Linked DNA regions of Homo sapiens: all the other regions are linked to region 1. The links come from fine-mapping of genetic effects on plasma protein levels. A gene starts in region 1. Each other region holds a variant in brackets. All regions are shown on one strand. Distances are between the middles of the regions. Region 1 holds the start of PLXNB2 (plexin B2). Region 2 overlaps MAPK11 (mitogen-activated protein kinase 11). Region 3 overlaps PLXNB2 (plexin B2).

Region 1 (8,185 bases):
AGGCTCGTGGGCAGGAACCGTCCCAGCCACAGGAGCAGACGCCCTTGCCTGGCCCCTCAGGGGGCCGTGTTCACACAGGAGGCCTTCTCAGAGGTGGACACCAAGCACTTCTCTCTCTTGCGCTTGCTGCGGGACTCAGCTGGGGCAGCATCAGGCCCAGAAATCGGTGCTGGACACTGTGTCTCCACACAGGGCCCCCCATGGAAGCTGCTGACCAGCTGTGCCAGAGGGGCCGGGGCCCTACCCCCAGGAGCCCAGTCCCTGCCTCTGATGCTGCTGCTGCTGGGACCCTGCTGGCAGAGCTGGTGGCTGAACTGGGGCAGCACCTCCCTCTCCTGCCCCAGGCCTGGGCCGGGACTCAGCTGGCACTGGAATGAGGAACTATTGGCTTTCAGAAGCCAGGAGACCTTAGGGGGCTGAGGAAGAGAGCTGGACCTGCCCCCAGGCGCCCTGATCCCAGCCCAGGGCAGTCTCCTCCCTCACCTAGCCTGGGACATGAGGCAGCTCAGGTGTGGCCTTAGGGGCTACCCCCAGGGAAGGCCACCAACCATAGCGGGCCACGGTGTGGGCTGGCCTCTGGGTGTGAAGGGCTCCAGGATCTGGGCTGCAGAGGCGGGACTGTGCGAAACAGAACCCCCAGCTCCACAGCCAGGCCAGCCCCAGGCTCCTCCCCAGACAGACATCCCCGGGGGTGGGGCAAACCTGCAGTACCACCAGGGGCAGCCTGTCCCACCATCCCCGGCACCACTGGGCCTGGGGCCAGTCACTGTCACAGGTTCATGAATCTCACAGGGCAGGGTGGATCCACTGGGGGGGTGCGGGGTGCCAGTGTTCAGGGCCAGACGGGAGGGGCCCAGCCAATCCCTTCACACGCTTGGTCTTCAGAGAGAAGGCTTCTGAGCCAGGAGGGCCACTGTGTCAGGGCCTGGCTTGAGGCCACACCTGTGGCTGGGGGAGCCCAGAACAGTGCAGGGTCCTTCCCTGGTAGGCAGAGAAAGGCAGGGGTCCTTACAATCCAGGGGTATGGGAAGAAGCAGGCCCTGTGTCAAGGGATGTGAAACCACGGAAAGGAAGAAGGTGGAGGAACCTCGACCAGAAAGAGGGAAGCTAGGGCAGCTGCCTCCCCGGGGCCCCAGAGCCTGAGCACCCCCCACCAGCCAAGGCTCTGACCCACCCTCCCCATCGTGTAATTAGTCAGAGACCCAGCCCCACCCCACCCACAGCCCCACCCCAAACACAAACAGCCACTACCCCTGAGGGAGGGAGGGGCTGTGGCCAGTCCCAGCCCTACTGAATCTCCCACCCCCAGAGAACCTGGATCTGCCTCAGAGAAGGGAGGTCAAGGCTGGGGGGCCACTTGCTGGCCACTGGGTGAATTCTGAGCAGCTCACCACCTCATCCCCAAACCGTGTCCAAGGCAGGCTCTGGGCACAAGAGGTTCCCCGCCAACTTCCAAGGAGGGCGGCCAGGCTGCAGCCAGAGGGACGGAGGCATGAGCTGAGTGAGAACTCCCAGCTCAGGGGAAGGCAGCCCTCGTGGCAGAGGCCTGGCATCCAAGTGCCTGCCTAGCTCAGAGAAGGCACAATATGAGGGGCCGGAAGACACAGCCTCTCCCAGCCAGTGCACCCCTGCCCACGCCCGCGTCCCAGGGGGACCATCAGCTGTGGCTGGCACAGGGTGAGGCAGGGGGCAGGACACGGTGAGCACGGACGACGTCCTGGGATGGGAGGAGGACTGTGCCATATGGGCCCTCCCCACCACCTTCCAATCCAATCTCTTCTGCTCCACTTCCCTGGGCCGGGTCCAAGGCTCTGGGCTTTCTGCACTTGGGGCCAGCTGCCGGCTCCTCCTCCCCGATGTGGTCCCCATGCAGGCCGCCGGGCACACACCCCGGGCGCACACACAGCATGGACCCAGAGCGCCAGGTAGCCACAGCCCTGGCCACACAGCATCGCAGATGACTCCTCACATAGACCTATCTCTGGCCTCAGTCTCCCCACCTGCAGGATGGGCTCACAGGCGCCATATCCAGAGGGGGTCGTAGGCAAGGACTGGCTGTCGGAGGGGCTTGGAGGGAGGCTGGTCCGTTAGTCAGGAGCTGAATAGGGAGTCCGTTGGGGCAGGAGGGCCCCCTGAGGGAAACCCCAGTGCCCTCCCTAGCAGCCTAGCCTCGCTCCTGCCTGCTCCTCCCTGGCACGCACAGGTCACTGGCACAGGGTGTGTCCCTGAACTTGGGCCTGGAGGGTACCTCAGAGGCTCTTCAGACCACCATTGAGACTTCTCGGGGCGAGGGGGTCCCTGGGTGGGGCGAGGGGGTCCCTGGGTGGGCCCAGAGCTCCTCCTGTTCCATGGTCTCCCCCAGAGGGGCTTGGGCCCACTGCAGGCTCAGCAGGGCCTGCTGGGGCCAACCTTGGGGCTTTCTCCAACCCAAAGGTGACGCATCTTCTCCCCGCCCAGTCTGGGCAGCTGCAGTAGAAAGTGGCAGAGCTGCCCGGACTTGCCCGTCCTCCTCCTGGGGCCCTCAACCCACGTCCCGGAAGTGGATCCTTCTCCCACGCTGCAGCCTCCCGCTTCGGGTGACTGGACACGGCTGGATGATCCAAAATAATTCTTTCTTGGCAGGCAGCCGGTGGGGGAGGGGGACTCACATTCCAAACCCTTGTTTTTCTCAGTAACTTCCCTCCTCTACTGGGGCAAGGAACCCCTGGCCAGACCTCAGGCCTCCCAGACCCCCCGGGACAGAGGTGGGCCCCCCATAGGTACCGTGGGAGGACTCAGATGTGCCAGGCCCACCTGCTTGCTTCTCAGTCGGCTCTGGGGATTTCTATGCAACATGCAAAAAGCTGACTCGCCACAAACCTATGCCTGCTGGCCCTGCCCTCCGGGAGACCCTCACCTCTGGACAGGAAAGGGAGGGCTCCTCCCACCAGCTGTTCAGCTGTTCCGTGCCAGGGTCATCTGGGCATGGGGCAGGCTGAGAGCCCCCACTTCCCGGCAGCCTCGCTCTCCCACCCGCAAAGGGCTCCTGAGGAAGCTCAACTTTAAAGCCTCACAGGCTGCGCCGAACCTCCAAGCAAGGGCCGAAGTCAGACATTAAGTGGGGAGGGCGGGGGGGTCCAGGGAAGGTGGGGCACAGGGAGCCCTCCAGGCCGCCGGGATCTGCCGGGTTTGGGGCCCACCCTCACCCTCACCCTCACCCTCACCCTCACCCTCACCCTCACCCTCACCCCCTGTCCTGACTCTGCCACAGCCCACAGTGGGCAGACGGACCCCTTTCTTCCTTTCCCAGGGAGCTTCGGGAAGAGAAATCAAGGGCCTGGCAGGAAGCCCCAGGGCGTCCGGGCTCTGAGACCCCCAGATGACAGGGGGAGGCGGGCTCCCCAGATCTGCCGAATAGCCCGACCAGGGGCGCTGGCAGGGCAGGGGCTTCCTGCAGGAGCAGGGTGCGGAGGGGCAGGGTCAGCAGGGGACAGGCAGGGCTCGCGCCCCCGCTTCTGAGACTTTCTGTGTCTCGGGGTGTCCACCCAGACGCCACTCTGGGAACCGCGAGGAGGCCCAGGCAGTGGGGTCTCGCCAGGTGCGGGTGCTCTCCGCCCTGGTCCCCCCGCGCCAAGCAGGCCCCAGGGGGTGCGGGGACGGCCCCCGGGAGCTCGGGCAAATCCAGGCTCCTGTGCCGCTGAGCCTGGGGCCGGCCCGGAGCGCCCGCACCGCGAGACCATCTCCGCTCGGCGCACGGAGCTCGGCGGCTGAAGAGTGAGAGGCAGGCGCGGAGGAGGGATCCGACGCGGCTCCGGAGGGACGCGCAGCCCCCGCCGCCGGGCCCGTCCCCCGAGTCAACACCGGGAAGGGAGTGGGGCGGCAGCGGCCCGGGCCTCGCCGGATGGACCGACGGACGGGGCCCAGGCCCCGGGAGCCCTCCGCGGAGCCGCAGCCGCCGCAGGTCCCCGGGCCCCAGCGCGGCAGGCCCGGGCGGAGCGGCGCTGACGGCGAAGCCCCCCCCACGCCCAGCGAGACGTCCCCCGCAGCCCAGTCCCCCGAGCTCGGTACCTGCACGTCCGCCGCCAAGGCTCGATGGCGCCCGGGCCGCGCTCGGCGCTGCGCTCTGGCCCGCGCTGCTGCCATGGAGACGGGGCCTTTGTGTGGCCGAGGAGGGGCCGGAGCGCGCGGGAGCTGCCGGCCCCGCCCCCGACGAGGGAGAGGAGGGGAGGGCGGGGAGAACAGGAGAAGGGGGGAGAGGGAGAGGGAAAGCGGAGGGGGAGAAGGAGGGGGAGGGGGAGGGGGGAGAGGGGGAGGGGGGAGAGGGGGAGGGGGAAGAGGGGGAGGGGGAGAGGGGGAGGGGGAAGAGGGGGAGGGGGAGGGGAGGGGGAGCAGGAGCGGGGAGGAGAGGGCAGAAGAGAACCGGAGAGGAGGGGAGGGGACGGGAGGGGAGGGGCTGGGCCTGCGCTCCCCGCGCCCCCCACTTCTCCCCTGCCCAGCGGCCACAGCATTGTCTGGTAGGTTCAGGCACCCCAGTTCAGACCCAGGTTCAGCCAGGGCAGCACCCTGCCCACCATGCCGCCGTCCAGGAAGCACGAGCGCCCACAGAGGCCCCATGGCCTGAGCACCCCCACAGGAACCCCGCAGGTCTGAGGGGAGGCCATGGCTTGGTACCAGGGGAGGGCATTATGAGTGCACTCTCGCCTGGCCAGAGGAACGTGAGGGTCCCTGCCAGTCTTGAGATGTGTGGGCACCAGACTCTCACTCCCAGACTGGAAGCATACCAGTCGCTCCCCTGCGGCCTTCAGGGGTGGGGGCTGCTGGGCTTTGGCCCTTTCCCAGGGGTCTCAGGCCCTCAACCTCCCAGGGTAAACTGGGACCTGGAGATGGCCTCCCAGCACATCCCTGGCCTCCAGCAGCACCTTGGGATGCTGCACCCGGGACCCCACCTGGTCCTTCAGGGCCAGGAGGTGGGCGGGCCGAGACCTCTTTCTGGGGGTTCTGGTTTCTGGGACAGAGCTGGCCCCACTTCTGGCATCCCAGGTCCCAAGTCCTGGCCTCAGTGCTCCTAGTGTCCCCTGGGCTTGAGAAGAGGTGGTGAACCGTCTGCAGGGCCAGACCTTGGAGCACGCCTCCACTGCCCTCCCGGAACTGGATGTGCTGAGCAGGAGACAGAAGCATTCCCCAAGCTCTTGCCCCCACCCTGGGTCACCCCTCCCTGGGGCCCGCCTTCCACCCAGACCTGCCCCGTCCTTGCAGCTGGTCAGCTTCCTCCTGTCCCCAGCCAGGCATCCCCTCCTCCTCTGCTTCCCCCACCCGGGATCCGCCCCGCCACATCCTGACAAACTCCCCCAGCCTGACTTAGTTCTTTCAGTCTCTGCCTTCTCCCACCCTCAAGCAGCCAGGCCTTGTTCCTGTCCAAAATCTTCCCTTGGGCCTTGAACCACAATCCACATCACGGCAACCCTACCCTTCACTGCAGAGGACCCCAAAATTACCAGGTTCTGACAAGGTTGCCAACTTTTTATCAAAAAAGGAAAAGACAAGGTCCAGTCACAAAAGGACATTTTAATACCAAAACTGTGGGAAGGCCACTGTTCTAGACTAAAAGGGAGTCTTTAAATAGCCAGCAGGAAGCTTGAGGGTGAGCAGCTGTCCTTCCTGTCCCTGAGCAGGCCCCCTGTGTGCACCCTCAGCCCCGAGCCCCACTCCAGACCTGCTCCCAGCCCTTCCCACCCTCTAGGTTCTGTGGTCCCTGTCCTTCGGGAGGCCTGTGACCACAGCAGTCCTCACCCTCGCCAACTAAGTTCTGCCCAGCAAGCCCTCTTGCCTGCGGGGGCTGGCACTCTGGCCAGGGGTAGAGCTGTCTGGACCTTCCTGCCTCTTCACTGACTGCCCCTGGCCTGGAGTGCGTGGGGCGGGGAGGGCCATGGCCTAGCCCTGGACAGAGGCTCAGCCAACTCAGAGCGGCCCTGACACTGGGGGGGCCACAAGAGGCATCCGGACAGATGGAGCTGGCAGGTCTCCACGCCCAGCCCCCACCCATCCACCCCAGGCCACATTCCACCCCAGGCCTCTTCTGCACAGGTGGGGACAGGCCCTGAGGAAGAGGGGCTGGGACACTACCCCCCACCTTAGCCTTAGCTTCTGCCCAGGGCAATGCTGGCCACCCAGCCCGGTTCCCCCCTCAAGTTCCCCCTTCACACGCCACTATGTGGCCTCACCAGAGCCCTCCAGGGAAATCTGCTTGTGCATTTCTGGATACACAGTGGCCAGGGTCCCTGGGGGCTCCTCAGAGACCAGCCTGAAGCCCCTCCCCTGCAGCCATGTGGGTCTGCAGCCCTCTGTGCTGTGCGGCAGCCCTCAGAAAGCCAAGTGAGGCGAGACTGTGCTGTGGGGAAGCACATGCTGCCACGGTCCTTGGGGTGCGCTCCCCAAAGTGGGGTCACAGTTGTGAGAGAGGTGGGTTGTCTTCCCAAGCTGCCCCGACACCTTGAAGTGGTGGTCCTCAGGGGGCTGGTCACCAGCATAAGGCTTTTGCAGAGGGCCCTGGTGGAGGGCAGCTGATGGCAGGGCCTGTACTGGCCCCCCAGGCCCCATCTTATGGAGGTCAGCATTCAAGCTGCCCACACAAGAGGTGCCAGCATCTCTGCAGACCCTCTAGAGACCAAGCCCTCAGTGGGGAGGCTGGTCCCCCTGTGCTACAGTCAGGAGGCCCAAGCTGCATTTGGGGCCAGGACCTTTCTCACCCTCGGGTCCCCGGCTTGTCCCTGCCACAGAACAGGTTTGCCACCTCGGCCTCTATGTGTTCTGTTTCATGTGGTCACATCCTTGGACCCTGCACCAGACATCTGGGGCTTAACAGCTCCCCTTGGTCACCCTCCCGGCTGCCTCCGCGTCTTGTCTGTAGAATGGGAACAGGGACAGGCTGTCCTGGGCTGCAGTTGGGCTGGACAAGTTGACATGTACCAAGTTCTGAGAACTACCTGGCGCCCGGACACCTGACCCCGCTGTCCTTGTGGCTCAGTCACATCCTGCACTGAAGTGGCTGGCAGTGCTCGCTCTCCACCACCTGGCTGGAGGTCTGAGAGCACCAATGAGAACACAAACAGTACGTTGCGCTGAATGAAGGCTACATTCCTCGGACTGAATGGGGGCCTCAGAAGAAAAAGAAAAGTCCCGGCCGGGCGCGGTGGCTCATGCCTGTAATCCTAGCACGTTGGGAGGCCGAGGCGGGCGGATTACGAGGTCAGGAGATCGAGACCATCCTGGCTAACATGGTGAAACCCTGTCTCTACTACAAATACAAAAAATTAACCAAGCGCAGTGGTGGGTGCCTGTAGTCCCAGCTACTCGGGAGGCTGAGGCAGGAGAATGGCGTGAACCCGGGAGGCAGAGCTTGCAGTGAGCCGAGATCATGCCACTGCACTCCAGCCTGGGCAACAGAGCGAGACTCCATTTCAAAAAGAAAAAAAAAGAAAAAGTCCCTCCCCCAGCCCTGTGTCCCCTGGCCAGCACCCGCCCGGCCTCACAGGGTACAAAGCCCAGTCTCCATGAGTGGCCCTCCCAGCACCCTGTCGGGCATCTGCATGGCTGGCTCGCTCAGATGAGGAGTCTGAGGGTCTGAGTGGTCAGGGGACCTGCTCCCGGGCACACAGTGCGTGATGCTGAGCAGGGCTTGGCTGTCCGGAGCCCTGACAGTACCGTCACTGTGTGCTGTGCAGGGTCAACACCGTACCTCACCGGCCTCAGTGCCTGCAGGTGTCACGGGGGGAGCATACAACCCAGAGGTGGCTCTTAGGGACGTTCACCCCTTACCAAGGAAAGGGAGACATGCAGGCTCCAGCCAGAGGCAGGGTCAGGCCGAAGTCCAGAGCCCCTTGGGCTGCATGTGGGGGATGGACGGACACACTTGGACAACAGGAGCCCTGTCCACCTCCCAGAAGGGACGCACGGAGCTGGTGCCTGGTGGGGGCTCCAGGACTGGGAGCCAGGAAGGTGCTGTGGCTCTCCGAGAGCCAGGCTGAGCCAGCTCTCCTAGCAGAGGTGCTGGGCTGCACACAGCCCCCTGCCCAACCCCTACCTCCCAACAAACCACAGCCCCAAGCAGGTGGGTGTCCAGAGGAGCACCAGGGGTGGTGAGCAGAGCTCTTCACACTGCAAAGTGGTCTCTCCCTTTCTCAAGTTGATGACTATATGCAAAATAGCC
Region 2 (8,131 bases), 42 kb before region 1:
GGCGCGCGCCTCGGGCCGGCTCCGCGCCGCTCGTCCGCTCGCCCGCCCGCCCGCCGGCCGCTGGGGCGCTCCCGCTCCCGGCCCTTCCCTCAGGGATGTCCCAGGTGCCGACCCCGGCCCGACCCCGACCCAGGCTGCGCACGGCCCCTCCCCCGCCCGGGGACCAACCGGCCCGCGGGCGGCGCGCACGTGACGCCCTCGCCCGCCCTCCGGCCCCTCCGGAAACCCGAGGCGGCCGCCGCCGGGGGAGGGCCGGAGCCTGGGGAGGGCCGGAGCCTGGGGGGAAGCGCAGGGGGAGGGGAGCGCCGCCCCGCAGCTTCGTCCCCATAAAGGGCCGGACGCGGCGCGGAGATACCTCTGCCAGCCTCTCCCCTTTGGCTGAACTTCCCCGCCCTGGGGGGGTCTCAGCAGGAGCCCCCCCCCCCCCCCCCCGCCCGCTCCAGTCCTAACTCCCCACGGCTCCAGGGCGCAGGGCCCATCCTTGACAGCCTGAGCGCTGACTTCTATGGCAGCCGCAAGTCGGGCTGAGCCCTGTGTTCCCGGGGTCAACTTCGCAGGCCACCCCCAAGGATGCCCTACCACTGAGCCTGATCCATCCGTCCCCCAACAAGGGGTCCATCTGCACCTGTCCTGCCTGTATCCCTCTTTCTACACGGAGGGGTCTGTCCCCCAAACTCCTCAGGCTGCATCCCCAACCCCACTCCTGTGGCCACTGACCCCGGGCCTCTCAGTCCCATAGGTCCCCGTGGGCCCTTTTGGACCCCCAGCTCCTCCCCCTGCTCCCCCCATCTGTGGGGTGCCTGCTCCAAGCATTGCAAGTACTGGTGTCTCTGCCCATCCCACCCCTGCCTGTCCTGTCCTGCAAAACCCAGGCTGAGAGTGGCTGCACTCTCTCCAGCAGGGATGGGGACCTGCTGGGGCCCTCCGCCTGACCCCTCTGTGTGGGCATTGTCCTCCCATAGGTCTGGCCCCATCCTGGACCAGATGCTCCTGAGGGCAAAGCCCCACCCTGACACCCCTTCACCAGCCCAGGAACCTGGATCTCAGAAGGGATGTTGGGGCACCCCAGGAGCCCACTGGGCTGGTGGGTAACAGGATCCCTAGGGCCTTCTGCCCCGCCCTCCTGCCATGAATCAGCAGCTCAGCCGCTCAAGGGTGGTAGTAGCTTTACACCTGGGCTTGGGCCGTGCTCCACGGCATTCACCAGCTCGTGACCAGTGAGCGGGGCAGCCCAGGGCCACCCAAACCACAGCTGCCTGTGGCCCATACCCTTTGTGCCCTGGGCTGCCTGTGGCACTCCATCCACCTCTTCCAGGAAGCCCAGCTTCCACGCTGTCCCCCTTACTCCCCGTGGTGGGGCTCAGGGGTCCAGCAGGCCCTGCACGGACCAGGCTTCTGAGGTGGGGCTGTGTCACCATTCTCCTCCCACCCCCAACCGCCAACACTGGACTTCCCCCGGGATTGACCACTACACTGACCAGGCCCCAGGAGGCCCCCAACTCCCAGACGGTTTCCACCCCTACCCAAGACCCAAGCAAGGGCACAGACTGTCCCTGGTCCTTAGAGACACTGCCTGACCCCAAATGGCCTGGACCCTCCCCCACACATAAGCTGCAGCGCGTAGTGGGAACGGGACCAGCGTGCACATTCCCTGGGTTAAAGTGGCCTCTTTTTCCTTCACCAGGAGGGAAAGGAAAGCTATTTTCCCTACCCTGCCCAGCCCCCACCCAGGGATGGGCAGACCCTTGCTCCTTGAGACACCCAACTTCTCCCCAGCCAGCTTCCCTGAACACTGAGGGGTAGGCGGGGGTGGTGTCTGGATCTTGGCCCAAAGCCAAGCCTGCCCAGTACATCCCCACAGGGCAGCTGGGGTCACCATCTGGGTGGCTGTCACACCCTGTGCCCTCAAAGTCTGCCCATCAGCCATGTCTTCCCCTGGTCCCCCTGGGCTCTCAGACCCTCCAGGGAGCAGGGAGGGTGCCAGAAGATGGCCGCTGGTCTGACTGGGGGCCTGAGGGATCTGGCCAGCTGGAGGTGAGTGATGCAGGATGACCCAGACACTCCCCCCACGCCCAGCAGCAGGGATGGTGGGGGCACCCGGGCCTGGAGTAGCCTTTGGATACAAGCCAAGTGAGAGAGAACCCCCTTTATTGTGCACCCCTGGTGCAGGCACTTGACACCCAGGCTTCCCTGGGCCCCTCGAGGCAAGAGGTCACCCCCTTTCCAGGGCAGAGCCACACCCCCAACTCAGCTCTGGGCAGGGTCCCGTCTCCGAGGTTACTGGATCAGCTCCATCCTGGGACAAGGAAAGAGGACTGACCCACAGACCAGAGCACCTCAGATCTCCGGCTGCAGGGCCACAACGGTGGGCAGAGGTAGAGAGCGGGCCAGGGTGCAGGGCAGAAGTGTCCGAGTCCAAGTCCACATCCAGGTGTGCTGCCTGCCCTAGCGTCCTCAAGGCCAAACCACCCACCCACCCACCCCCAGCCTCAGGAAGCTGCTGTGGGTCCCACATCCAAGGAGAAAGCCCCTGCCCATGCTCATGTGGTTGCCCTTTGGCCCACTGGAGCCGCCAGTCTGAAACACCCCTCAAGGCATCAGGAACCGAGGAGAGGGAAGGCAACAGCACACCCACCCCGGCTCCAGCTTCTTGCCAGATATGGCTGCTGGCCTTGGGCGCCCACAGATTCACACGCACCACATCACATGTGCCCTGACATATGAACACGGGGAGTGCACGCTCATCCACACGTGCCCACACACACCCACGGGTGAACACAAGACTCCAGGCAGCTTTTCTCATTTGACACCTGGTGGTTGTCCCTGCCCAGCCTGGTGGCACACTGGCTCTGCCTCTCCTCTTAGACCTGTGGGTCTCAGCAGTGACCAAGACAGCCCCCTACCTCCAGGCTGAGCAGCTCTAACCACTGAGACCTCTCCCTTTGAGTCTCCCGGGGTCCCGGCCCCAGCGCGTCCTCCAGAAAGCCCTGGGACAGAAGAGAGCCCAAGGCTGACACTCCCTTGGGTCGGCCTGGGACAGACAGGGGAACTCCGCAGGGGAACCCCTTTGGCATCTAGGACCCCACAGTCAGGTCCCAGTGGAGAGTGCAGTAGCCAGAAGAGGACAGGAGGACCAAGGTAGGCCCAGGGACACTTGTGCCCAGACTCCTACACATGGCAAGCACATGTACACACATGTTTGTGCATGCATACATGCGTGTAGATTCTCCTGAAGGCGAGGGGTCCTAGGCCAGAAGTCTGTGACCATAGGAGTGTGGGAGGTGCCTCTCGAGGAAACCAGGCCAGCTGTGGAAGGGTGCAGGCCCAAGCCCCTCCACAGGCTCTCAGGGGCTGCTGGGCAGCACCTCACTGCTCAATCTCCAGGCTGCCAGGTGGCTTCGGTGGCTCTGGGGGCTTGAAGCTGAGGACTTCCTGGTAAGTGAGCTCTAGGAGGTGAAGGGAAAGGGTGAGCTTGTGCCTCCCACAGCCCGGCCCCTCACCTGCTTGTCTGGCACCTGCCACCCAGCCCAGGCCCACCACCCTGTGACA[G/A]CAGCCTCAGCACAGTCTGGGAGCCAGAACCTGCCCTGTGTCACTCCTCCGCCCCGCTCCCAGCCTGTGCTGGACACCTGAACGCCCTTCCACACCTGACCAGTCTGGAGAGGAACTGGGGCATTTCCTGCCTCTGGGGAAATGGAGCCCGCAGGCCCCTGGACCCACCCCCAGCCACTGCCATGCTCACCCTTCCACTCCTCCAGCGTGCGCTCCTTGGCCTCAACGCTCTCATCATATGGCTCGGCCTCTGGCTCATCCTCGGGGTCGTGGTACTGGCTGAAGTAGGCGTGGGCCAGTGCCTCAGCTGCACTGACCCTCTGGTCACTGTCCAGCACCAGCATCCTTCCAAGGAGGTCTATGGCTGCAGGGAAGCCAGTGGTGGGGAGGGGGGTCAGCTGTACATCCAGGGCCAGATATGGAGCCCAGTCTAGCCCAGGGCAGTCCTCACCCAGGGGGTTGGCTCCACGGAAGATGCTGCTCAGGTCCTTCTGGGGCATGGGGGGCAGGGACTGGATATATGTCCGGGCCTGGGGGCACACAAGAACACCTGGGGAGGCTGCTCACTCTCTGCCTCCCTGGCCCCAAACTGGGGCTTCTCTTGGCAAGCCCCCAGACTCATTCACTCCAACAGGCCAGGACAAGGGCACAGGCAGACCAGTGACCCCCTCCATATAGGATCTGGTGGTTCTAGCTCCTCAGTTGGCCCCTAATGCCTGCAGGAGCTGGGTCCAAGTACACTCCCTCCACCCAGCCCACCCCCACTGCCCTGGCCAGGCACTGCTTGCTGGGGTCCCCCAGCCCACCCCCACTGCCCTGGCCAGGCACTGCTTGCTGGGCCCCCAGCCCACCCCCACTGCCCTGGCCAGGCACTGCTTGCTGGGGTCATGGCTTTGCACTCACTGTCCCTGGTGTCAGGAATGTCTTCCCCCTTCTCCTGTTTCCCCTGCAGGGATTGGGCACCTGCCCTAGGCTCTATCCCACCACATCCCATGTTCCCCATATGGTCCCCGCATTTCCACACCACCCTCTCCCCCAGAGAGCCTGGGGGCTCAGCCAGGAGAGGGAGCTGCTGGCTGGCGGGCACCAACTCACGTGTTCTGAGGAGATTTTTGCCAGAACCTCAGGGCTGGGTGTGCCCACCACTTCCATGATGCGCTTCAGCTGGTCAATGTCTGTGTCACTCAGGAAACACCCACGGGCCAGCCACAGACCCCTCCTGGGCCCCCAGACCCAAAACTTTGGGGCGCTGCCCAGAGCCCGCTCTCCTATAGGTGAGGATGGCCAGCCCAAAGTAGCATAGCATGGGGGGCAGAGGAGGCAAGACCCGCCAGAAGGGGCCAGCGCTGGTCCCTACCCTACAGGAGGGGCCCTGTTTGACCCTGCTCCCCAACCTGGGCCAAGGATACAGTCGCTTCCCGGGAAGAGGGCCTTGCCCTGGAGCAGCTCAGCCATGATGCAGCCCACGGACCAGATATCCACTGTGCGAGGGCGAGGGGACCTCCATCAGTGTGCCCACCCCACGTCCCTCCTCCAGGAGACCCACAGTCACATCCAGACCCCAAGATGGGCAGACCCCCTCCTCTGCCATACCCAACCCCCCTAGGCAGGGGGAGGTCCATAGCTGCACAGCCAGAGGAGGCCAGCACCCATCATGCTCTAGCGGCCTCTGAAGGGCTACTTTTGAATGTGGGTCCCACATTCTTGGGGACCTTGCCTGCCCCCTAAGACCTGGCATGCAGAGCCAGTCGAGGGCCAGACGAGGCCCTTGGCCTTCGTCCCCCCAAGGCCTTCCCCCTGCACCTGTTTGGTTGTAATGCATCCAGTTGAGCATGATCTCAGGTGCCCGGTACCAGCGCGTGGCCACATAGCCGGTCATCTCCTCGTCCGCCTGGCGCGCCAGCCCAAAATCCAGGATCTGGGGCGACCACGTGGTGTTCTCAAGCTCCGCACGGGCTCCGCCGCCGCCCTGCCCACCCCTGCCCACGGGCCTCACCCTGAGCTCACAGTCCTCGTTCACAGCCACGTTGCTGGGCTTCAGGTCCTGCAGGTCACGCGGAGCGTGAGCACAGGAGGCTGGGACGGAGCCCTGCTGGACCCGACCCTCACCCTGCGGTCGCACCTACCCGGTGGATGATCCCGGCCGAGTGGATGTACTGCGGGAGGGGGATTGTGGTGAGCGCCGGGCCCGGCCCGCCCGCCCCCCTGCGAGAGGACCCGCGAAGCCCAGGGCGCCCCACCTTCAGCCCGCGCAGCAGCTGGTAAACCAGGAATTGAACGTGCTCGTCGCTCAGCGCCTGGCACTTGACGATGTTGTTCAGGTCGGCGCCCATCAGGGTGGTCACCAAGTACCTGGGGCGGGGTCAGGGGGTCAGGACAGGGCCCCACCGCCCCACCGCGAACGCGCTCCCCGCTGCCTCGCCCGCCCCGCCGCTCACACTTCGCTGAAGTCCTCGATGGACGTGGCCGGCGTGAAGACGTCCAGAAGCCCGATGACCTAGGTGGCGGGGGGCGTCAGGGCCGGGCGACGAACCCCCGGCTGTCGTTCAGCTCCCCCCGGGCCACGCCCCCAGTGCCAGGCCGCGCCCCCTGTGTCCCCGCCCCCATCGCCAGGGCTCGCCCGCCTATTGGCTGCGCCGCGGCCCCGCCCCCGCACGCGCCCTCCCCCCACGGCCCTCCCCCGGCTCACGTTCTCGTGCTTCAGGTGCTTGAGCAGCCGCAGCTCCCGGTACGTTCTGCGCGCGTGGATCAGCGACTGGAAGGGGCGCGACAGCTTCTTCACCGCCACCTTCTGGCGCAGCCGGGCGTCGTAGGCCGAACTGGAAGGCGGGCGAGTGAGGCGGCGCCGGGAGGGGTCCGAGGGCGGCCGCACGCGCGTGGACCCGGGCGGCGTCCCTCTCGCCGCTTCTCCGTGGGGATGGGGCCGTGGGGCTTTTCTGCCCCGGCCCCGCCGCCCCAGCTCGGCCTCCCACCCTCGGGCCTACCCACTCCGCGCTTGCTGGGAAGGAGCCCCTGGGGCTGGACCACCATGCGTGTGTTCACCCCACAAGGTCCTGGACCTTCTCTGTCCCCTGGCCCCACTGATTCCCACGCTCAACCAGGGGCCCCCATTCAAAGCAAGGCTGGGGGAGAGGTGCCCCATCCAGCGTGGAAAAACACAGCAGGAAAACAGTCACTGGCATTCACCTGCAGCAGACGGGCCTCCCTCTGCCCCATAGACCCCATGGGCCCAGGAGGCTCACAGAGGGGGATTCTAGAGCCACCTCAAAGCCCCTGGACCCCTGGTGCCTCCGAATGTTCAAAATACGGAGGGAAAGTTGGTCAGAGGTGTTTATTGCATCATTATTTGGAACAAAACCGGGACAGAAGGTGATGTACAGCTGAGGGCGTCAGCTGGACCCACAGAACAGCCCTTCGCCCAGCCCCACTTCCCAGAGGTCCAGACCCTCTACCCTGCACCAGCTTCCTGAGCCCACCCTCCCTTTGCAGGTGACCCTCATCCCACCCTCCCATGTCCCACTGCCCTCAGCCCTGCTAAAGGAAAGGCCTTTGCACAGCCTGTTCCCTCTGGCTGATACTTGCTTCTTCTCTCCCTCCCACTTCTGTCTCTTGGGATCCTGTCTCAGAGCAAGTGGAGGCTGAGGCCACCCCCCATGCCCACACAAGGGGAGCAGGAGCGGCTCCTGCTGGGTCTGGGATGCTCATGGGCGCAGGTCGAGGTGCCTGGGGCAGCCATGCTCCCAGCCTATGACCAGGGAAAGGTGCTCCTGAGGTGGTGAGGGGAGTGGCCCTGCACGTGGGGCAGCAAGTTCTTTTGGCCAATTGCATCTGTGCGGTCAGGTGACAGGGAATTGGCACCTGGCCCGCAGCCTTGGCAGTGGAACTAAGAAAATGGGCCAGGGGTGCAAGGGGGGAGACCAGGCCTCACTCAGAGAACCGGACACCTCTCAGCAACTCCCAGACGGCGAGTCCAGCCATGACCCACCCTAGTCCCCTATGGCCACTCCCACACCGTCCCAGACCCTCTTCCTGCCCTTCAGGTCTCAAAGAGGAAGACAGATCTGTGCTGGCATGATGGCTAGAATGACCCACCTACAGCTTCTGATGGAAGGCTAGGGACCACACCAGAAGACAGCCTGCCCTGGGACCCCCGGCCCCTGATGCCGGCTCCTGAGCTCCAAATCTGGTGGGCCTAGAGGTCCCACTTCCAACCTGCAAGTGCCTGGGGCAGAGCTCTGCCCTGGCTGCCTCTGCCTTTGCGCCCCACCAGGACCCCCCAGTGGGCAGCAGCTAAGCGGCATTGGCCATGGTGAGGACTCAGCTGCACCTCTCAAAGCCTGTACCCATGATCAGCCTCCCAGTCAACATGGAGGCTGAAACTTAGGACTCCCGGTAACTACCTCACCCTAAGCCCCTCCAGCCCTGGCTACCCGGGTCTAACAGAGACCTTGGCCCAGTTGACCCCCCTCCCCCACCCAGACTCTGTCGTCTTCCTGGGCCCCAGGCCAGGTCCTCTGGCCCCAGGGCCTAAGTGGGGTTTGTGGTCTGAGGGGGAGTCTGAGGCCATCCCAGGGGGAGAGAT
Region 3 (8,185 bases), 25 kb before region 1:
GAGCCCGGACGCCACTCTGTGGGAAGAGACAGCCCAGCTTGGGCCCCAGCCACCCAGGTTCCTCCCACTGCCCACCACTCCCATATGAGAAAGCTGGCCAGGCAGGATACCGCCCCAGGACACAGGCCAGGCACATGGGCGCCTGTGTGCAGACGGGCAGGGGCCGGCACTCACCCAGGACCACGCTGTCTGGCCTGGGCCAGCAGGAGCAGGGCTGCCCACGGTACACCTGGTCAATGATCTTCTCCTTGACCTGGGAGATGGTGTCACAGTTGAGGACCTTCACCGGGATGGCGTCCACTCCCTCGTCCTGCACGATCACGCTCACCGTCTGCCGAGACATCCGGGATGAAGCCCAGTGGGAGGCCCTGCTCTTACCTGCACCATGCAGGAGCCACTCCCTGCCCCGCCAGCTTTGCCCACCACAGCGGCACCCTTGGGCAGCAGGCCCCCGCCAGCCCGGCTCCGAGCCCCCGAGGCTTCCCAGATGACCACACTCTGCCCTTCCCCTGCCTGCTCCGGCTCAGCAGGACAGAAAGACGGGGACGGCTCAGAACCGCTCACTCAGGCTGTCACGCAAGCTCATGGAAGCACATGTACAGACACAGAATACACACGTCTCACACATGCACAGGCTCCTGCCACACCCACTGGTCATGTATGCACAGAACCCTGGACACACCTGGTGTGCCAGGCCCTTGTATGGCCTCCAGGAGGTGGGGGCGCCCGGGAAGAGCTGATGCGGGGCCCGCACACTTAGAGCCTCCAGAGCCCACAGCCACCAGCACCCAGGCCCCTCCCTGAGGCCGAGTTAGAGCAGGCTGTAACTCGAATCCACAGAGGAGGTGGACGGCCTCTGGCCTGTGGGTCCCATCTGTGGCCAGGGGATGCCCAAGCTCCTTAGCCCAGATCCGAGGCGCCCATGGCGGCCCCCACCCCAGAAGCTCACCAGGGGTGCGTACTCCACATCATCCCCCAGCAGCCCCGTGTCGTTGAGAGTGTACTTGGCCTTCTTCTGTACCGCATCCACCGGGCCCTTTTCCACCTGATGTTTGATGGCCTTGAAGAGCTTGTACAGGGGCTCCCCGGCACTGTCCTGGAGTAACACGGAGGGGAGGCTGGGAGGTCAGGGGACTTGGGGCCTGGAAGGGGCCCCCGGAGCCCTGGCCAGAGGCATGGACGGGGCTGACCATGTCAGGGGCAGGAAGCAAACCTGTCCAGGCAGGGCCCACCTCAAGGTGCCGTACAGATAGGGGAACGCAGGAGGGGATGGCAGCAGTCTGCCTCATCCCTCAAGCCCCAGCCAGGCTGGGGTGGAACCCACCTTGAGGTACTGGTACAGGCAGATGGACATCCAGTTGGACAGCATCCTCTCCACCACAGTCTCAGACCTGGGGGTGCAGGGAGGCCTTGTACCGAGTGACCCCGTAGTATTCCTGAGGCCCAACTGACTCCTCCAAGCACCCGGCCACCCTTGCGCCAGCCTCGCCCCTGTCCAGCCTGGGTGTGGCCTGCAGCGAGGACTACCTGGTGGCAGCTCCAGCCCTTGTGGGAAGTGTGCCACCTTCCTTCTGTTCTGCAGAGGGCTGACACTGTGACCAGCTGAAACCGCTGGACAGGAAGGGCTAGAGTCCGGCTTTGAGTTTGTGGCCGGGGACACCACCCCTAGACCGCCCCCCACCACCAGCGCTGGCTGGCACCTGCCGGCTCCTGGGGGCCCAACAGGCCGCTGTGCCACCCGCCACCAGCCCCAGAGCCCCTGCGGCCGCCCCGCCCGTGGCCCCGCTCGTGGCCCCGCCCATGTGCACCTGCGCAGCATCAGCTTGGGGTTCTTGGCCACCACGTACTGCTCCAGGAGCTCCAGGAAGAGCGTGTGCATGATGTCCGTGTAGTACTCCAGTTTCCCGTGCAGCGCCACCGTCAGCAGGGACGCGAAGTAGACCTTGGCGCGGGCCGAGAACTCCCGCTGGTTCTCCAGGGTGTGGATGAACTGTAGGGGCCGGCGGTCAAAGCCTGCCCGGCGCCACCTGTGTGCCCTCCCGCCCGCCCGACGCCTGGCTCACATTGATGAGGAAAGACTTGCTGTTCAGCAGGTTGGAGAACTGGTAGAGGGCCTGCTCCACCACCGGCCGCCGCGGCTCAGGGATGTCCAGCTTGCCGGTGATCATCACGTCCTTGTCGCCGTCCTTGGAGGGCAGGAAGAAGACGCGGTCGGTGTAGGTCTTGTAGTCCAGCACGGGGATGCCGGCCTCGTGCACGTCGTTGGTCTGGTCCTCCATCTCGATCATCAGGTCTGGGGGGAGGCTGGCGTGAGACGTCCCTGGCCACGTGGGGCCCTGACCCCCACGCTACACACAGCATCCCCGCCCCAGGAGGCGCCCCAGCACCAGCCCCCAAGCGGTCCCTACCTGTGAATTCCTTCTTGCAGCGGTCCCGCACGCTCTCCTCCAGGCCCTCCAGCTGGGACTTGATCTTCTCATACTCTCGTTCGGCCTGCTGGCTCTTCCTCCTGCAAGGCACAGCGGGCCTCCTAGGTTCTGCCGGGGCTGGCCGCTCAGCTGCCCGGATGAGGAGGTGGATCTACACGCCTGCCTGTGCAGGGCGGCGGATGAGGCCAGAGGGGCCGAGGCGGGAGGGCCGAGGGCTCAGGGTGTTGGCACAGCCGGGGGGCGGGCTCACCAGTAGCAGTAGACAGACACCGCGATGACGACCACCATGGGCACGATGACCAGCGGCAAGATGAGGCTGAGCGGCACGTCGCTCACCCGTGTGTCGTACTCCACGCGGCCCAGCACCCACTCGCGAGAGCCGAACTTCACCTGTGTGGGGGGCCGGGTTCAGCGCGGTCCCGTGGGGGCACCCCCCGCCAGTCCCCGCTCACGCACAATGAACTCGGGCAGGTTGTGTGTGGTGTCTCGTTTCTGCCGCCGCTTGGGCGGGGGCTGCACCTCCGGGGGCTCACAGTACAGGTCGGTCTCCGTCAGCGTCTTCATGGTGCAGCGCTCGGCACCCACGAAGGCCTCGGCCTCCTGCAGCGTCATCGCCTTGTTCAGATTGGTGCCCTGGGGAGGCGGCAGTGGTCGGGGTGAGGAGGAGGGAACCAGGGACAGGTGGACCAGCTCTCAGCCCAGACCCGAGCAGGACCCAGACACCCGGGGCTGCACCGTCCTCACCCGGGCGTGGATGAGCTTGTTGACCTGCTTCTTGACGCCACCTGTGAAGTTCTCAAAGGTGGGGTCAGGCACGTACTCGAAGGCCCCGGCCTCTGTTCTGAGCAGGGCACGGTGCCCGTCCATCTCGATCAGCACCGTGAGGTTGTAGGCCTCTGGCTCCTCAGGCACAGCCGGGGACAGGAAGACGACCTTGGTGTCATTGTGGAACACGTAGTCTGTACCCACCACCTGCAGGCAAGTCCCAGCTGTCAGCCCCCGGGCGCAGACCCCGCCCTTCCTGGGCACGATCCCATGGGCCGGTGCCAGAGCTGAGCCCACGCCAGGACTGACCGTCATGGGCTGCAGGGATTCAGCCTCCCGCGGCGGCTGCCAGGACTGCAGGGGCTCCGCGATGACCACCATGGCAAACCTCTGGATCAGGCTGAAGCCCTGACCCGTGACGTTGATGCTGCGGCCACCACTGCGGAGGGCAGTGCCTTCGTGGGCTCGGCTGGCAGGGGTGGTCCCTGCAGCCTCCGCCCTCCCGTCCCCGCCCACCCTGGCCCTGACCACACGGGGCTTCCAGGTGCATGTGTGGGTCTCGGTGGGCAAAGGGGCAACGCGGTGGGACGTGCTGAGCACGAGACTGTGCCGCAAGTGGGCGGGGGGCACACGGGGCCTGGTGAGCGTGGAGCCTCTGGTGTGCCCATCTGGGTTTCTAGGAGGAAGTGGATCTGGAGTGCAGTGGGGTTTTCCGGAGGCCGCCTCCCGCTGCACAGACCAGCCCCACCACATTCCTTTCAGCACAGTCAGCCAAGGGCACTGAGGAGGCAGCTGGGTGTGGGGAGCAGAGGGGGGCGGGGGGACACCAGCCTCACCTGGCAAAGCTTCGTAGCGGCTCGAAGGCTCGCAGTACGGGGTTTTCGCGGTAGGTGAAGAAGATGCCGGGGTTGGGCACGGGGGACCCCCCGTAGGAGACCTCCAGAAGCATCTGGCCCCGTGTCGCCTGGGGGCCAGTGACACACTGGAGCTGCGCCCCAAACTTCGTCCTGGGGGAGGGAGGGTGCTGGTCTGCATCAACCCCTCCCCCGGGACCAGCCCCAGCCCGACCAGGCTGGCCCCGCCATCCCCTCAGGGCCACTCAGGTCTCAGTAAGTGCCCCCCTCCATACCCAGGGCCAGGGCCAACCAGACTCAGCAGCTGGCGGTGACACCCACACTTTACACGGGACGCCGTTGAGGGTCACCCGCACGTCCTCCTGGGAGCCCGTGTCCAGGTGGGTGCCGTGGATGGTCAGTGTGGTGCCGCCCGCCTGCGGTCCCTGCTGCGGCTCCACACTGAGAGGCTTGGGCTGCTGAAAGAGCCGCAGGGGCACTCGGGTGAGGACGGGGCACAGGACGCCCTCGGTCCTGGGCTGGATGGTAACTGTCGTGGGGAGGCGGCGGGCAGAGCCCCTCCTCCCGGTCCTCCCGGGTTCGGCAGGTCCCCGAGGCCGGGTGCTTACTTGGAAGGTGAACTGGACATTGGGAGGCGAACGGCCCAGTTTCCCGAAGACGTCCACCTCGACACCCCCCGTGAAAGGCGTCTCCGCAGCCTCGATCACACACACGATCCTGGCGGGCGACAGGCAGTGTGGCCCAGGCACTCCCCGACCCACCCCACACCCTGACACCCTCACCCCCTCAGCCTCCCCACCCACCCAGTCACCCGGAACCCCAGCGTGGGTACTGACCCAGCTGACAGGGCCCAGACCAGGGCCGTCCACTCACCGGGTGGACACGGAGTAACGTTCCGGCTGAAAGGAGCAGTTCCGGCCGGCCACAGAGATCCTCTGGATGTCCCCTGCTTGGACGCCCAAATTGGACCCCAGGA[T/C]GGTGATGCGGATGCCCCCACCCAGGGGGCCCGTCTCAGGCTGGATCTGAAACCACAGAGCCGGGTGAGCAGGGAGGGGCTCATGCCAGGGACGAGGGAAGGTGTAGGCCAGGCTTCGAGGGGCTCACCCTGGTGATGACGGGCGGCGGGCACTCGGAGGTGGTGTTGCACAGGGCCTCATACACGCACCTGCTCTGGCCCCCGCACCACGCACACCTGTAGTCGGGGTTAGCGGCCCGGCACAGGCTGCAGTCGCTGCGGCCAAAGGAGCAGTTGTAGAGGGTCACTGCGGGGAGAGCTGCCGTCAGTGGTCACCCCGTGCCTGCCCGCCCCCGACCTGCTCCCCACTGCGCCCACCTGTCCCCCCACCCACCGCCTTGTGCCCACCCGTCCCCTGCCCGCCCCCCACTGCGCCCGTGGCCCCCACCATGGAGCTTGCTGTCGATATTCTTGCCGTAAGACTTGACGTAGAGGTGCAGGGGCAGCGTCTCGTTGGCATCGTGGGACAGCTGGGGGACACGCAGGGGCACACTGCACTTCCTGCCCCCACAGAGGGGCGTGGGGCGGGGGTCACAAGGGCAGCCTCCCTGTGGCCACCGGGTCCCTTCCCAGCCAAGGGCAGCAGGGGAGGCCTTCAGGTGTCGGAAGTTCGGGAACCCCATGGACGCTGCTCTGTGCCACTCTGTCCCCAGGGAGGCAGAGGGCAGAGGGGGCTTCCCCAGCAGCACAGGGCATGGCGAGCCCCTGGCTGGGCTCTGGTCCCTGGGGTCTCCCTGCTGCCCCTCCCCTCACAGTCCTGAAGGTGACCCCCCACCCCACCCGGGGCCCTGGGGTCCAGCAGCCGAGCCGGCCTGCCCTGGAGCCGTACCTTTGGGGTCCGAAAGGCGAAGGTCCCAGATTCCTGCATGGTCACCGGCTCCATGAACTTGAGCAAGTCACTGCCCACGTGCAGGGAGGAACCCTGCAGACCATGCCGTCAGGACCCTGGACAGGCGGCTGTGGCACCCTGGCCCTCCTCCCAGAACCCCTGCAGCCCCTCCTCTGTGCCTACAGTGTGGGAGCCCTCTCCTCACCCCACACATGCCCGCCCCTCAGATTACCATGCCAGCTGACCCCTCGGCCACTCCTGAGCCCAAACACCTGTGTCTGCAGAAGCCTCTGAACGTCCTCTGTGGGTTTCCCACGGCCACCTCCACCACTCATCCACACCTGAGAACATCGCCCGGCCCACCTGACATCGTGGCCCCCACAGCTCCCTCCTCAGGAGGTGGCACTGGCCCCTCAATCTCCACACGCCTGCCTCCTCCACTGCCTCTCTTCAGGCCCATCCAAAGGCCCCCGAGTGCTGCCTCCTGGCCTCTGTCCCCGATAAATCCTGTGCCCTCTACCTCATGTGGGGGCCCCGAGTCGGGGGGCACGGGTGGAGCTCAGGCTTCCCACACACCCATCAGCACTGGCCGGCACCCCTCCCTCCGTACCTTAGCCTGCCTGTCACCAACCGGCACCCCCTCCCTCCGCACCTGAGCCTGCCTGTCACCGGCCGGCACCCCTCCCTCCGCACCTGAGCCTGCCTGTCACCAACCGGCACCCCCTCCCTCCGCACCTGAGCCTGCCTGTCACCGGCCGGCACCCCTCCCTCCGCACCTGAGCCTGCCTGTCACCGGCCGGCACCCCTCCCTCCGCACCTGAGCCTGCCTGTCACCGGCCGGCACCCCCTCCCTCCGCACCTGAGCCTGCCTGTCACCAACCGGCACCCCCTCCCTCCGTACCTGAGCCTGCCTGTCACCGGCCGGCACCCCTCCCTCCGCACCTGAGCCTGCCTGTCACCGGCCGGCACCCCTCCCTCCGCACCTGAGCCTGCCTGTCACAGCCGGCACCCCTCCCTCCGCACCTGAGCCTGCCTGTCACCGGCCGGCACCCCTCCCTCCGCACCTGAGCCTGCCTGTCACAGCCGGCACCCCTCCCTCCGCACCTGAGCCTGCCTGTCACCGGCCGGCACCCCTCCCTCCGTACCTGAGCCTGCCTGTCACCGGCCGGCACCCCTCCCTCCGCACCTGAGCCTGCCTGTCACCAGCCGGCACCCCTCCCTCCGCACCTTCACGGTGTCCAGGTTCTTGCCCTGGAAGTTCACATCTGTCTCGTGGTTCATGGGGATCACCAGGGGGCTGGGTCCCAGGAACTGGGGACAGCTGTCCTCCTGGGAGAGTAAGGCTGGTCAGGTGCTGCCTGGGCACAGCGGAGCAGCCATGCCCTGAACAGTCCCCTGAGGCCCCGAGGCCCCTCACCATGTGGGCACGGACGATGCCGTCCTCAGGGTTGGGCGAAGCCTCCCGGCACTCGTGGTAGCGCAGGTCCCACTGGCAGGTCCAGCGGTTGCTCACGCAGGAGATGCACCTGCATCCAGAGGGGATCGTGAGCAGGGCTGGGGTGGACGGGCAGGGTGGGGTCGATGGGCACAAGACACTCACGGCAGGTTCTCCTCCAGGCTCATGGCCTGGCGGCAGTCGTAGAAGGGGTACTGGTAGGACGTGAGGAAGATGTTGCCTCGTCTAAGGAGGAGCTGGATGGTCACGGCCACGTGGTCTGCAGACAGCAGAGGGGGAGGTGTCAAGGTGGCGGCCGCAGGGCCGAGGGCCAGGCTGGGCCTCCCCTGGGGCTGACTCCTGGGGCCAAGGTGGAGACCCCTGGTCTTCAGGGGGCCCTGCCAGGACGCCCCGCATTCATGTTGGGCGGGGCCTGCCACCTGCTATCAGATCTCGGGTGGGGCTGCCAGGACGCCCGTTCACGCTGGGCTGGACCTGCCACCTGCTATCAGATCTTGGTTCGGGTGTCGGGCGCAGCACCGGGCTTGCCTTTCTCCCCCGGGTCCAGGTTGCTTTCATACCCTCTGTTCCCGCAGGCACTGAGGGCAGCGGCTCCTTGGAGTCTGAGTGGGACCTGCCAGGTCCCTGCCCACGTCACTGCGTGGCCCCACTGCCCCCAAAACTCAGGGGACATGGGCGCGACGCCTGCCCTGGCCCACATGCGAGGCCCTGCAGCCTCTGGGAACGGCCCTGCTCTCTGAAGCTGGACATGGCAGGAAGGGGTGAGGGGCGTCTGCCGAGACGACGGGGCCTGGCGCCTGGCACCCACATGCCGCTCCGGACGTGATGAGGGAGCAG

What was found. PIP is the posterior inclusion probability: the model's chance that the variant is causal. Sun 2018 read protein levels with aptamers (SomaScan).
Region 2: its variant is fine-mapped to the plasma level of the PLXNB2 protein (Sun 2018, PIP 0.95).
Region 3: its variant is fine-mapped to the plasma level of the PLXNB2 protein (Sun 2018, PIP 0.95). The variant lies in the coding sequence of PLXNB2. If it changes the protein, the assay may bind it differently, which can mimic a change of level.

Annotation. Positions count from the first base shown.
Region 1 is chr22:50,303,506-50,311,690 of GRCh38, forward strand. PLXNB2 (plexin B2) reads right to left here and starts at 4,141. Exons shown (of 37, transcript NM_012401.4): 1 at 4,048-4,141. It overlaps DENND6B (DENN domain containing 6B), which reads right to left. Exons shown (of 20, transcript NM_001001794.4): 20 at 5,525-8,185. RefSeq lists enhancers at 1,795-2,994, 2,384-2,753 and silencers at 3,302-3,452, 3,973-4,042, 4,053-4,252, 4,413-4,462, 5,163-5,212.
Region 2 is chr22:50,261,582-50,269,712 of GRCh38, forward strand. MAPK11 (mitogen-activated protein kinase 11) reads right to left here. Exons shown (of 12, transcript NM_002751.7): 2 at 6,239-6,368; 3 at 5,988-6,046; 4 at 5,790-5,901; 5 at 5,676-5,705; 6 at 5,546-5,593; 7 at 5,353-5,467; 8 at 4,959-5,030; 9 at 4,645-4,724; 10 at 4,001-4,079; 11 at 3,740-3,913; 12 at 2,132-3,446. The coding sequence ends at 3,367. It overlaps MAPK12 (mitogen-activated protein kinase 12), which reads right to left and starts at 102. Exons shown (of 12, transcript NM_002969.6): 1 at 1-102. RefSeq lists silencers at 1-40, 71-380, 391-440, 6,202-6,271 and an enhancer at 488-1,219. The variant G/A (reference allele first, on the strand shown) is at 3,550.
Region 3 is chr22:50,278,681-50,286,865 of GRCh38, forward strand. It overlaps PLXNB2 (plexin B2), which reads right to left. Exons shown (of 37, transcript NM_012401.4): 9 at 7,493-7,607; 10 at 7,310-7,418; 11 at 7,120-7,221; 12 at 5,893-5,985; 13 at 5,452-5,533; 14 at 5,153-5,310; 15 at 4,922-5,070; 16 at 4,657-4,765; 17 at 4,370-4,506; 18 at 4,031-4,201; 19 at 3,504-3,633; 20 at 3,174-3,401; 21 at 2,886-3,062; 22 at 2,680-2,819; 7 more. Among named protein-coding and RNA genes, the nearest start is that of MAPK11, 12 kb to the left of the region's middle. RefSeq lists an enhancer at 3,437-4,636. The variant T/C (reference allele first, on the strand shown) is at 5,025.